Linked DNA regions of Homo sapiens: region 2 is linked to region 1. Evidence: fine-mapped expression QTL. A gene starts in region 1. The other region holds a variant in brackets. All regions are shown on one strand. Distances are from middle to middle. Region 1 holds the start of RAB2A (RAB2A, member RAS oncogene family). Region 2 has its middle 4.6 kb from the start of LINC01301.

What was found. PIP is the estimated chance that this variant, and not a neighbour inherited with it, causes the effect. A credible set is the group of variants that fine-mapping cannot tell apart.
Region 2: its variant is the best candidate, but not a certain one, in a credible set for the expression of RAB2A in neutrophils (BLUEPRINT, PIP 0.60).

Annotation. Positions count from the first base shown.
Region 1 is chr8:60,514,100-60,519,478 of GRCh38, forward strand. RAB2A (RAB2A, member RAS oncogene family) reads left to right here and starts at 2,888. Exons shown (of 8, transcript NM_002865.3): 1 at 2,888-3,154. The coding sequence starts at 3,109. It overlaps LOC124901949 (a long non-coding RNA gene), which reads left to right. Exons shown (of 3, transcript XR_007060922.1): 3 at 1-2,699. RefSeq lists enhancers at 2,036-2,896, 4,132-4,321 and a silencer at 2,472-3,341.
Region 2 is chr8:60,415,704-60,421,082 of GRCh38, forward strand. No RefSeq gene overlaps it. Among named protein-coding and RNA genes, the nearest start is that of LINC01301, 4.6 kb to the left of the region's middle. The variant A/ATATT (reference allele first, on the strand shown) is at 3,364.

The DNA of each region.
Region 1 (5,379 bases):
ATAGGCGTGGTGGCATGTGCCTGTGATCCCAGCTACTCAGGAGGCTGAGGCAGGACAATCACCTGAGCCCAGGAAGTCAAGACAGCAGTAAGCCATGACTGGGTCACTGTACTCCAGCCTAGATGACAGAGCAAGACCTCCTCTCAATCAATCAATCAATCAATCAGAACAATATGCATTTGACATCTATGGCCCCTGCATTTTCACGAGAGGATTACTACCTTCTTTACAGATGGCTTTAGATTTGGAGGCTGGCTAAGCATAAAATTAAAAGACGTCATGCTTGGAATAGCCCTTTTAAGAAACACTTAACTCCTTTACTTAATAGACAAGTGCACTGAACCACTCATAATTTTTTAAATTATTTTTATTTTAATAATTATTTTATTTATTAAGACACAAGGTCTCAATCTATAGCCCAAGCTGGAGTGCAGTCGCACCATCCTAGCTCACTGCTGCCTCAAACTGCTTGGCTCAAGCTATCCTCCCTCTTCAGCCTCCCAAGTAGCTGGGACCGCAGGCACAAGCCATCGCAACCTGTGCTCTGAAGCTTTAAGAGGCCAAACGATTCCTCACATTCATCCGATCAGTTACAGGTAGAGCCAAGACCAGAAGCCAGGTATCCTATTTTCCTTATAACACATTGCCTCTATAGCTTTATATCCATTTCTATGATTTTTGTTACATACCCAGTTCTGACCATTTCCTGTCACAATTTCCTTTGTCTACTAAGTAAAGTTCTAAATGCATGGTGACATAACATACAAGGCCCTACATAACCTGGCACAAGAGACCTCTCCAGGTACTCTCCTCCTCTAACAGTGTAGGAATACTCCTGACTCCTAGGATGCCAGGCATTTGTATAACATCCTAATAGAGTTGTGCTGGTGAAGGAAGGCCACATCCCTCTATCTTGTGAGAGTGAAGACTTGAGTTTCTCCATCACCAAGGAAGACTTGGGTGAAGGCACTCAAGTGGGAGGGACAAAATGACATCTGAAAACTGGAGGCCTTGGGCAGGGACCTCCCCTTCCTCAAACTAAAGGTGAATGAACCAAATTTTGCGATTCCAGGTAGCTTTTCATGTCAAATTTTCATGTCAAATTCTTCCGTGCCATCTCTGACCCTTTAGTAAAATCCCCTCCAAATATTCCAGAAAAACCTTGTGAGTTCATATTTGGCAAGGCCATCCAAAGCATGTTAGCAACCCAGCATGATGGTGTCAGTACTAATTACATAATGAGAGGCCCCAAAGAGAAGAGTATTAGGCAACAGGAACGAGGGCCACTAAATCCCAATCGCTTTTCCCCAGCAATGATTCTCCTTCAATATGAGGTTATGGGTTATGAGGATATGAGTTAGTCAATTAGCTTCCTTATGCAACTTCAAATTCCCTGAACAGATCCAGGAATTTTGCACATTCTGTTCCTTGTCCATAAACTTTGGTTCCCCTCCCCAAACTGTTGTTCTTTCGACAAACTCTATACATAATTCATATTCCTGGCTCAGAAATCATAATCTCTAAGTAACCTTTCCTGACACCCTATTCTCCACCTCCTCTTCCATAACCTGTGGTCTTTTTGAACAGAGTGGTGACATTTTGGGCTGGATGACTGAAAAAGCAAAGTAGAAAAACAGAACATAGAACATACAGGGCCTCCAGTTGCTGTGCCTGGCGGTACATGAAACATAGTATTCAATAACTATTCTTTGAATGCACAGTCATTTTGTTTTTTCCTTTAACAGTATTTCCTAATAGGTAACTCATGAACACTGCAAAAAATGTCAAACTGCACAAAAAAATTCAGGGAAAAGTACATTTTCCCCCCAATCCCATTCCCTCCTTTCTCTTAATACCAGTTAGCTTTCCTTTCAGATTGATTATGCATATATGGGTATGTAAATGTTTTCCCACTATTTGTTACACATAAAAATTATATACAATTCATATATTACATATGGTGCATGTTATATACACACACATAAACAGATCATCTCGGTTTTGCTTAACCTAAGTCAGGCTTTTTTTTTTTTTTTTTTTTTAGAGCAGCCCTCAGAACCAGGACAGGTTCAGAGACTTTATTTATTTTTTATTTACTATTATTATTTTGAGACGGAGTCCCGCTCTGTCGCCCAGTCTGGAGTGCCGTGGTTCAATCTCGGCTCACTACAACCTCCACCTCCCAGGTTCAAGTGATTCTCCTGCCTTAGACTCCGAGTAGCTGGGATTACAGGCGAGCACCACCACGCCCGGCTAATGTATTTTTAGTAGAGACGCGGTTTCGCCATGTTGGCCAGGCTGGTCTCGAACTCCTGACCTCAGGTGAGAGCAACGTAGTACTCCACTGTGCGTGCATACCATGATTTACTTTGCAGTCCCAGATTTACGGTTTCCAATTTATAAATACTGCCATTTTCACCTTCAAGCCCCGATGCCAAACACAGAAATACCAGGCCACCCCCACCCCCTCGCCGTGTGCCTCCCACATTTTCACACACATTTTCAGGAGCCCAGGGCGCAGCCTCACACCGAACGCCGCCTCTGCCGTCCCCTCACTTGCCCCGTGCCCCCACCGCAGGGCTGAAGGCGACGGAACCGAGCCTTTGTACCCCCACCAGCCCCGTTCCCTGGCGTCTCCCGGCCGCCGGGCTCGCCCGCTCAAACGTGGCGGAACAACCGGAGCCGGGCCCCGCCCTGCTGGAAGACAGGGCGGACCGGGCAAGGCAGGCGCGGGGCGGGGCGGGGCGGGGCTCCGGCTGGCGGGGCGCGGCCAGCGTGCAGGGCTGGGCCAGCGTGCGGGGCTCCTCCCCTTTCCTCCGGCGGCGCCGGCGGCCGCAGAACTTCCGGGTCGGCGCGGAGGCGGGGCGGAGGCGCCGCGGCGGCTGTTATTGTTCGGCTGGGCTCGGTCGGGCGCTGTCTCCCTCGGCTCTGCGGGTGTCAGTTCGTCCGGCTTCCTCACAGCCCCTCACTCCCGGCGGCTGACAGCAGCAGCGGCGGCGGCGGGCGGCGCCTGGCGTTTCGAGGCTGAGCGGCACCGGGGTTGGGGCGCGGAGGAGGAGCAGCAGCGGGAGGAGGAGCCGTGTGCCCTGGCACTGAGCGGCCGCGGCCATGGCGTACGCCTATCTCTTCAAGTACATCATAATCGGCGACACAGGTGAGGGCCCCGGGCGCGGCCGGGCGGGTGTCGGCGGCCTCCGGACCCGGGCTGAGGGGCAAACGGCGTCTGGCGGTGGCGGGGACGCGGACTCCACCCGGCGCCTCCCTCCTGGCCGCGCCGCTCCATTTCCGCAGTGCTGGAGCTGGTGACGTGGGCACTGCGAGCGGCCGCGGCCTGGCCAGGCCCGGTCTGCGGCCCCCGACCCGGCCAGTCTTGCAGCTGAGGGCCGTGGCAGCCGTTTGCGACGCCCGATTCAGGAAGTGTGTGACAGGAGGGGAGGCCTAGCGCAGGGCCGCCGGGGCCCGACTCACATGACTGCACCCCACCCCCAGGGCCCCTTGCGTTAGGTCTCTTCGCGGCCCCAGGAAAAAGAAGGAGGGAAACCTAGGGGAGCAGAAGGTGTTGGGGCCCGGGTCTTGGTTCCTGACCAGTCCAACCTTCCTCCACCAGCACGCATCTATCAAGGCCTGGGCAAGGCGCTTTTTGGCGTGGGACAGGCAGCCGAGAAAGAGAAAAGGAAACCTTTAAAATATGTATTTTATATATATACATATATATAAAATATGCTTTTTTAACACCTTCAACTCTCACGTCAGAATAAGTCACATCTCATTACTTGACGGCTGGAGAATCCCTTTCGGGGTTAGGAAAGCATGAACGAGTTCTGTGGACTTTTGCCACGTGTGAACTGGGGTTATATAGTAATGTAAAGTCGTTCAGTGCTCTGGGTGTGTACTTAGGTATGTGTATGTTGAGGACGCTGATGTTTTAGATATGTCAAGTCCGGTGTCACAACTGCTAATTTTCAGGTGAGCTCATGTCCATGAGCTGAAAGAAATTCAGTTATTCTCACTTAAAATGACGTCCTAGTATATTTCACAGAAAAGTAAACAGACTCTTCGTAGATATTTTTAATACCTGTGATTTGGCATTACTTTGAATCTAATAATAAACATAAAGATTGTTTAGATGTTGCAACTATTAATATACCAGAGTCTGATTTCAGTGGTTACTCTTGCACAACTTTGGACCCTTTGCACAACTTCGGTCATGTAAGCAGCAGTTTGTAGTTGAACTAATGATGTGGCAGGTTCTATAAGTAACTAAAGAAGCATGTTGGCCGGACGCGGTGGCTCACACCTGTAATCCCAGCACTTTCGGAGGCCGAGGTGGGGGATCACCTGAGATCAGGAGTTCGAGACCTGCTTGGCCAACGTGGTGAAACCCCGTCTCTACTAAAAGTACAAAAGTTAGCCGGGCGTCGTGGCAGGCGCCTGTAATCCCAGCCACTTGGGAGGCTGAGGCGGGAGGATCACTTGAGCCCGGAAGGTGGAGTTTGCAAAAAAAAAAAAAAAAAAAAAAAAAAAGCATATTTATTGCTGCCTGAAAGAAAAAATTTCTGCTAGATACATGAGTTTTCAGCAAGGTTTTCTGATGCGTGCGTGCGTGTGTGTGTGTGTGGAAATTGGATTTGTAAACTTTAAAAGAAAAATGCTGTGGTGTATTTGGAAGAAGGAGAATTCTAAAGTCTTCTGGCAAAATTTCATTTAGGCTGTAAAAACAAGATTGGAGAGGAATGCCACATTAACTGTAATATGAGTGGGTTTGAGAAATAGAAGCTTGTGACTGTGGCATTTGGCTATCTCATTAGTGGTGAAAATTCAAATCAGACTTTGCTGGTTGCCTTTTTTCAGTTTTTTATTTGAGGCTGTACTGTGGATAAATAAAGTATTGTGCATGGAGTAGTGGGGCTACAAATCCTAACAAGTTAATGCTCTGTTCTCTTGGAATTTGCTCTTATCCAAAAGCAGTCCCCACGCAATTCAAAGGGAAGACACTTCTTTCTTGTCATTGCTGCTGATACGACCTAGTTCAGGAACAGAATTCTTGACACTGTTATAGTCTGCAGCAGTACTTCTCCCTACTCCAGTTCAGCCAGTGTAGTTTACTGTCAGTTTAGTCATCCTGAAGCATGAATGTCAAAAGGCTACTCCTGTTTGCTCACAATTTTTAGTTTGACCTTCAGTGAACTCTATATTTTAGCCCCTATCTACATTTCTCGCCTTCTTTCCCGCTATTCCCCACCTTGCTTCTGCCATTGAGTCCCAGTGACTGATTTTGGTGTTTTTTTCCTGGGCACTGCTAGTCTCTATTCTTAGAGTGCTTTCCGGCACAATCTCTCCCTGTGGAAGATCCATCAGTCCTTCAAAGTCTTATCTGAG
Region 2 (5,379 bases), 98 kb before region 1:
GAGATAATATTACCTCCTCCCAGGAATGCTGTGAAGGTAAAAAGTAATATCAAGTTGTAGCGGCACAGTCTAGTCATGAAACGAAACCACTGTAGGTCTTTCAACAGACAGATTTCAAGGCAGGGATTTAGTTCCACAGGGGATAGAAGAGCTTTGCCAAACAGAACAGAGGCCATCTAGAGATAGGCTGCTGGAAGGACAAAGGAAGATGGCTGTTTTGTAGAGCCGGGGAGTCAAGCCAGGCAACCCAGTAGGTGCTGGAGCATGGTGGGGCAGGGGAGCTAATGCCACGGAGAATTAACTGCTGCTGGATGTGGAGATACCAGACAAGGAAGATGGGAAGGAGAGAAAGGCCCAGGCTTCTCTTTTCCCCCAACCCTGTAGTCTCCTACCAATGCCTCTCCTTGCCCAGAGGAGGTAGAAGTCAGAAGATACAGGAGCCTGGGCAGTGTATCCAGAGACACAGAGCAGAGAGAAAGGGCAGACATTGGGCCTGAGAGCAAACAAGCAAATGCCTAGCACACACACAGAAAAGCACTTACACATTCTCAATCACAGCGGGAGCATCCTGTTAGTGCTTGTCATTGTCACTGTTAACAAAATACAACAGCCTGAAGGAATAGGCTCTTAGCAAGAAAAGTGTGTCTGTGGGAAGCCTGCCTTTTATTAGTCACGCACAAGCATCATTTCTCCAGGAGTGGCCACCACATGGAGGGAAAGTCCTGAAATTAGAGTCCCAGATGTGCTTCTTATAAAGGGAACCTCTTTGTCTACGAAAACATGAGTTTCACATGCATCCTAAGGCTATAATAAGATCAGAGACATGAAAGTGTTTAAAAGTGCTATGCCGATACAGGGCATGCTTGTATTCTCCAAAGGGGGCATTTTCAAAAAAATCATTGTTTTATAAGTTCTTGATTACTTAACAGAGTTCTGATAACAAAAGTGTTATTGTTTGGGGATTATATTTGTTCACAGTAACTGCATTTTATATGTTTACAATGAAAATCATTTCACTTTTGCAATACTGGTTTCTTGTTTGCTAGCTCCCTGGTCTATTAGGTCATTGCACTAGGCAATGTGATATATTCTGAAATTTTCTGAAATTTTATTTACTATTTTTAATATACCACTAAAATGTTTAATTTTCCCCCCAGAGTACTACATTATATGTTCAGGAATATTTTACTTTGTCGGTTTCAGCAAAGAGTGTTCCGGGATGTGGTCAAACAGCCAGTGCACGCCGAGTGTCAACAATCATGCAGCAGCTGGCAGAGCTTGTTCGGCATTGATGAGCCAGGTGTGCAGCCTGGAGCCAGGCCCACACGACAGGAGCAACCAGGGTGGCCCAAGAGGGAGACCAGGACAGACCAGGGATACAGTTGGGATGCAGCATTTTGGGGCTCAAGTAGCTCCACAGACAGGTCTGGGTCCTTTGCTTCAGCTCAGGAGGGTTCATGTGGGACTTTTGCAGGGGAAGAAGCAAGCCCCAAATTGGTGTGGTTTAACATTTGCCAAAAAAGAGAGGTGTAGTCCAAGCATCTTAAGATATTTATCTTAAGGAACATTCCCAAGAAGGGGCAAACAGGAGATGCCAGGAATTAAGGGTATTTGGACTTGGACACAGGGATGGAAACCCTTCGTTTTCCGTGCACCATATGCAGAGAGCCAAAAGCGGTAGCATGGAGGGAACTCCCAACCAAGAACATGAAGAAAAGCTTGTCCTCAAAGAGCTAAATCAGCAAGTCTATTTGTGATATCAGATAGGGGATCTATGATTCTAGTTCTTCATGGTCTGGTCTCACCAAGACTGTTGAAATGTGTTTGAAAACACCCAAGATGCAGTAAAGGGGACCCAAGGATCACCACTGGAAAGGACTTAAATTGTGACTGCAATCAGGTAAGCAGGAACTTGGTCAACTCTGTTGAATTCTGTTAGGAGAAAAGTTGTTTGAACTTGAAAGCACAGGCAACCTCACACACAGAATACGTAAACTTGAAGACCCGGGCGGGCTAGTACCCACACAAACTCAATGAAGGGAGGAGGCAGGGTGGCCTATAGAGCCTAGCACTATAATCAGTGGACATAAATATATATGGCCTCTGAAACACACTGATTTATTAACTAAATTAGACAACTCCTTCACTTTGCTCCAATTCTGTATTCATCAGGGAGCCTCCTGAGTATAATTTTGACTCCCCTAGGAAAGCTGCTGAGAGAGATAATAGGCTCATCATATTGCCTGAAATATCTCAGTCAAAAGGATGCTCAAGGTTCTTATTGCAAAATGATACTGGTACTTTGATTTATACATCAGTCTCTTGTCATGTTGGTTAATGGGAGTTTGCCCCCAGAGAACCAGATTCACACCAAGTATCCTTAAAATTTATAACATTTGAAGCTGCAAAGCTGAAAAGCTGACCTGCTATAGTGTAGAATCTGCAGAAGGTAAATGCCAACTGACGAGCTATGTAAGCATTCACACAGCCAACCTCCCTTGATAACATCCCAACATTGCCACATGCCACGTTTTAAATTTAAACAAATAACAGTATAACAGTGTTGGGTGTGTATGTGCCAGTTCATTTCCAATGTTCCACACTGTAAAACAGCTTGAAGCCTGTAAAACTGGAGATGTTATTGTCTTGGGCCAGATCTGTGCTGCAGGAAAGGATTCAGGGTCTTTGAACTATAAATAAATTCAGTTAACACTGGGCATTAAATTGTGAACTGCTACAGCATAGTTTAGATATGGTAAGTCACAGAGCAATCAGTACAGTTTTCTATGTAGCTCCAACTACATTTCCTTCAGAGCCTTTTAGACACTTCTGGGACTTTTATAGTTTCTTAACAATTTAAAACTTTTGTACCAAAAATCAAATAGTATTCTGGCCATTAAACAAATGACCCAAAATATGTGATAACATTTTAAAAATCAAGAAATAGGAGACATTATAACTAAAAAGACAAACAAATTTGACCCTATGAAAGTTTCAAATTTCTGTGAAGTTAACTATCAAAATTAAAATTTAAAAGGCAAACATATTGGAAATATATTTGCAGCAAATACAGCAATAAACAAGCAAAAATTTTATTGAAAACTATTTGAATTGCCTAATAAATGAATGAAAATTAAAAAGAGAGAAATATTATTATATGCCTATTAAAAAGTAAGCAAATATACCTAACAAAAATTAAGAGATTAATATCCATTGCAAGCACAGTTGGGAAGAGTTAGATTCTTGCATGCAGCTGTTAGCAGCCCATATTTACATGATTCTTTCTATTATACATCAAGAGTAATGGAATCATTTACATTCTTTTACAACTACTCTGACTTTAAGATATTTACGCTAAGGAAA[A/ATATT]TATTTATTTATTTATTTATTTATTTATTTATTTGTTTATTTATTTGTGAAAGGGTCTTTGTCACCCAGGCTGGAGTGCAGTGGTAAGATCACCACTCACTGCAGCCTCAATCACCCAGGCTCAAGTGATCCTCCCACCTCAGCCTCCCAAGTAGCCGGACTACAGGCATGCACCACCACACCTGGCTAATTTTTTATTTTTTGTAGAGACAGTGTCTCGCTATGTTGCCCAGGCTGATCTCAAACTCCAAGCAATCCTCCCACCTCAGCCTTCCAAAGTGCTGGGATTATAGATATGAGCCCCTGTACTTGGCCTGAACATACTTACTTTTTTTTTTTTTTTTTTTTGCAGTTGCAAGATTTAATAAAATGAAAACAGAGCTCCCATACAATGGGAGGGGACCCAAAGGAGGTTGCCGCTCCCTGCTTGAATGCCTGGGTTTATATCCCGATCATTGTCCCTCCCCCTGTGCTCTCAGGCGATATATGATTTAACTATTTCTTTACCTCCTGCTTTTAGCCTTATTTGTATTTTAGTGAGCCCTCTTAACTACCTGATTGGTTGGGTGTGAGCTGAGTTATAAGCCCCGTGTTTAAAGGTAGGGGGTGTGGTCACCTTCCCCAGCTAGGCTTAGGAATTCTTAGTCAGCCTAGGAAATCCAGCTAGTCCTGTCTCTCAGTGCCCCCCTCAACAGGAAAACCCAAATGCTGTTCGGGAGGTTGGCCGATGACCGCTCTAACTGCTTCCTGCTGAATTGGGGCATAGTAGGGGCCGTGCAGTTGAGATTTCCTCGGGAGGGGTGCCTTCAATGTCATCAACATTGGAGAATGGGCTAGCAGGCTGGTCCAGGGGTCTGCGATAGATCTTAGTCATGTACTGCATCTGGGGCTCCATTTGAAGAACTGTTTGTAGGTTTATAGCTTCGATTCTTGAAGAGACAAACTTAACAAGGAGGTTAAAGATACAGGGATTGAAGAGTATGGCCTGAAGTGCAGGGGCATATGGGTGTGGGCGGTGAAATTGGGGTTTCCTTTAGAAAAACTCCTATATGATGGGGCATCAATATTTCTGGGAAGCTGCATTCTCCATAGAAGCTCTTGGTAAGGGGAGCTGCTGGTAGTACAGCGGCATAGAGCGGGTGCAATGAGAGTGAAACAGGGTAAGAGAACAGTAAAAAGAAAAACATGACAAAGGAGGGCCATGGGGATCTACGATTCTAGTTACTTTCTTCACAGTTGTCACTTGAAGAGCAGGTGCAGATCCTCTAGAGGTTCACAGGAATAGCTAGTGTTGTCTCCTGGATTTTCAGGTTCCTTTGGCAGTATCCAGGGTTTGACTCGAGTGTGATGTATCCAAGACTCCACTCCAGCCACTTTAACCACTAAGCTAAGTCCCGCTTTTTGGGGAGAGTTTCAGATTCTTAGTAAGGCTATAGGCAACAGAGCAGGCCATGTGAGGTGGGTTTCTTGGGTTAGCTTTTTTAGATGTCATTTGAGTGTTTCATTCATTTTCTCGACTTTTCCTGAGGATTGTGGCCTCCAGGTGCAGTGTAAGTGATATTGTATGCCTAACGCCTGGGATATTCCCTGGATTACTGCAGCCTTGAAAGCAAGGCCTTTGTCACTGTCACTCTGTAAGCCTTGGGGAAGTCCAAATCTGGGAATTATTTCATGAATTAGTGCCTTTATTACCTCTTGGGCCTTTTCTGTCCTACAAGGGAAGGCCTCTGCCCAACCAGTGAAAGTATGTACCCAGACTAGTAGATACTGAAATCCCTGAGATTTGCGCATGTGGGTAAAATCTAGTTGCCAGTCTTCTCCTGGGTAATGGCCTGTTCTTTGTTCTCCTGAAGGAGCTTGGTGATAAGGCAGGGGGTTATTTCTTTGGCACATTTCACAGGCCCTTACTATCTGCTTGATAGTTTTGAAAAGGCCTGGTCCAGTAAATAATGATTTGGCCATCTGATGGGTGCTATCAATGCCTAAGTGAAAGGTTTGGTGAAGGGTTTTAAGTAA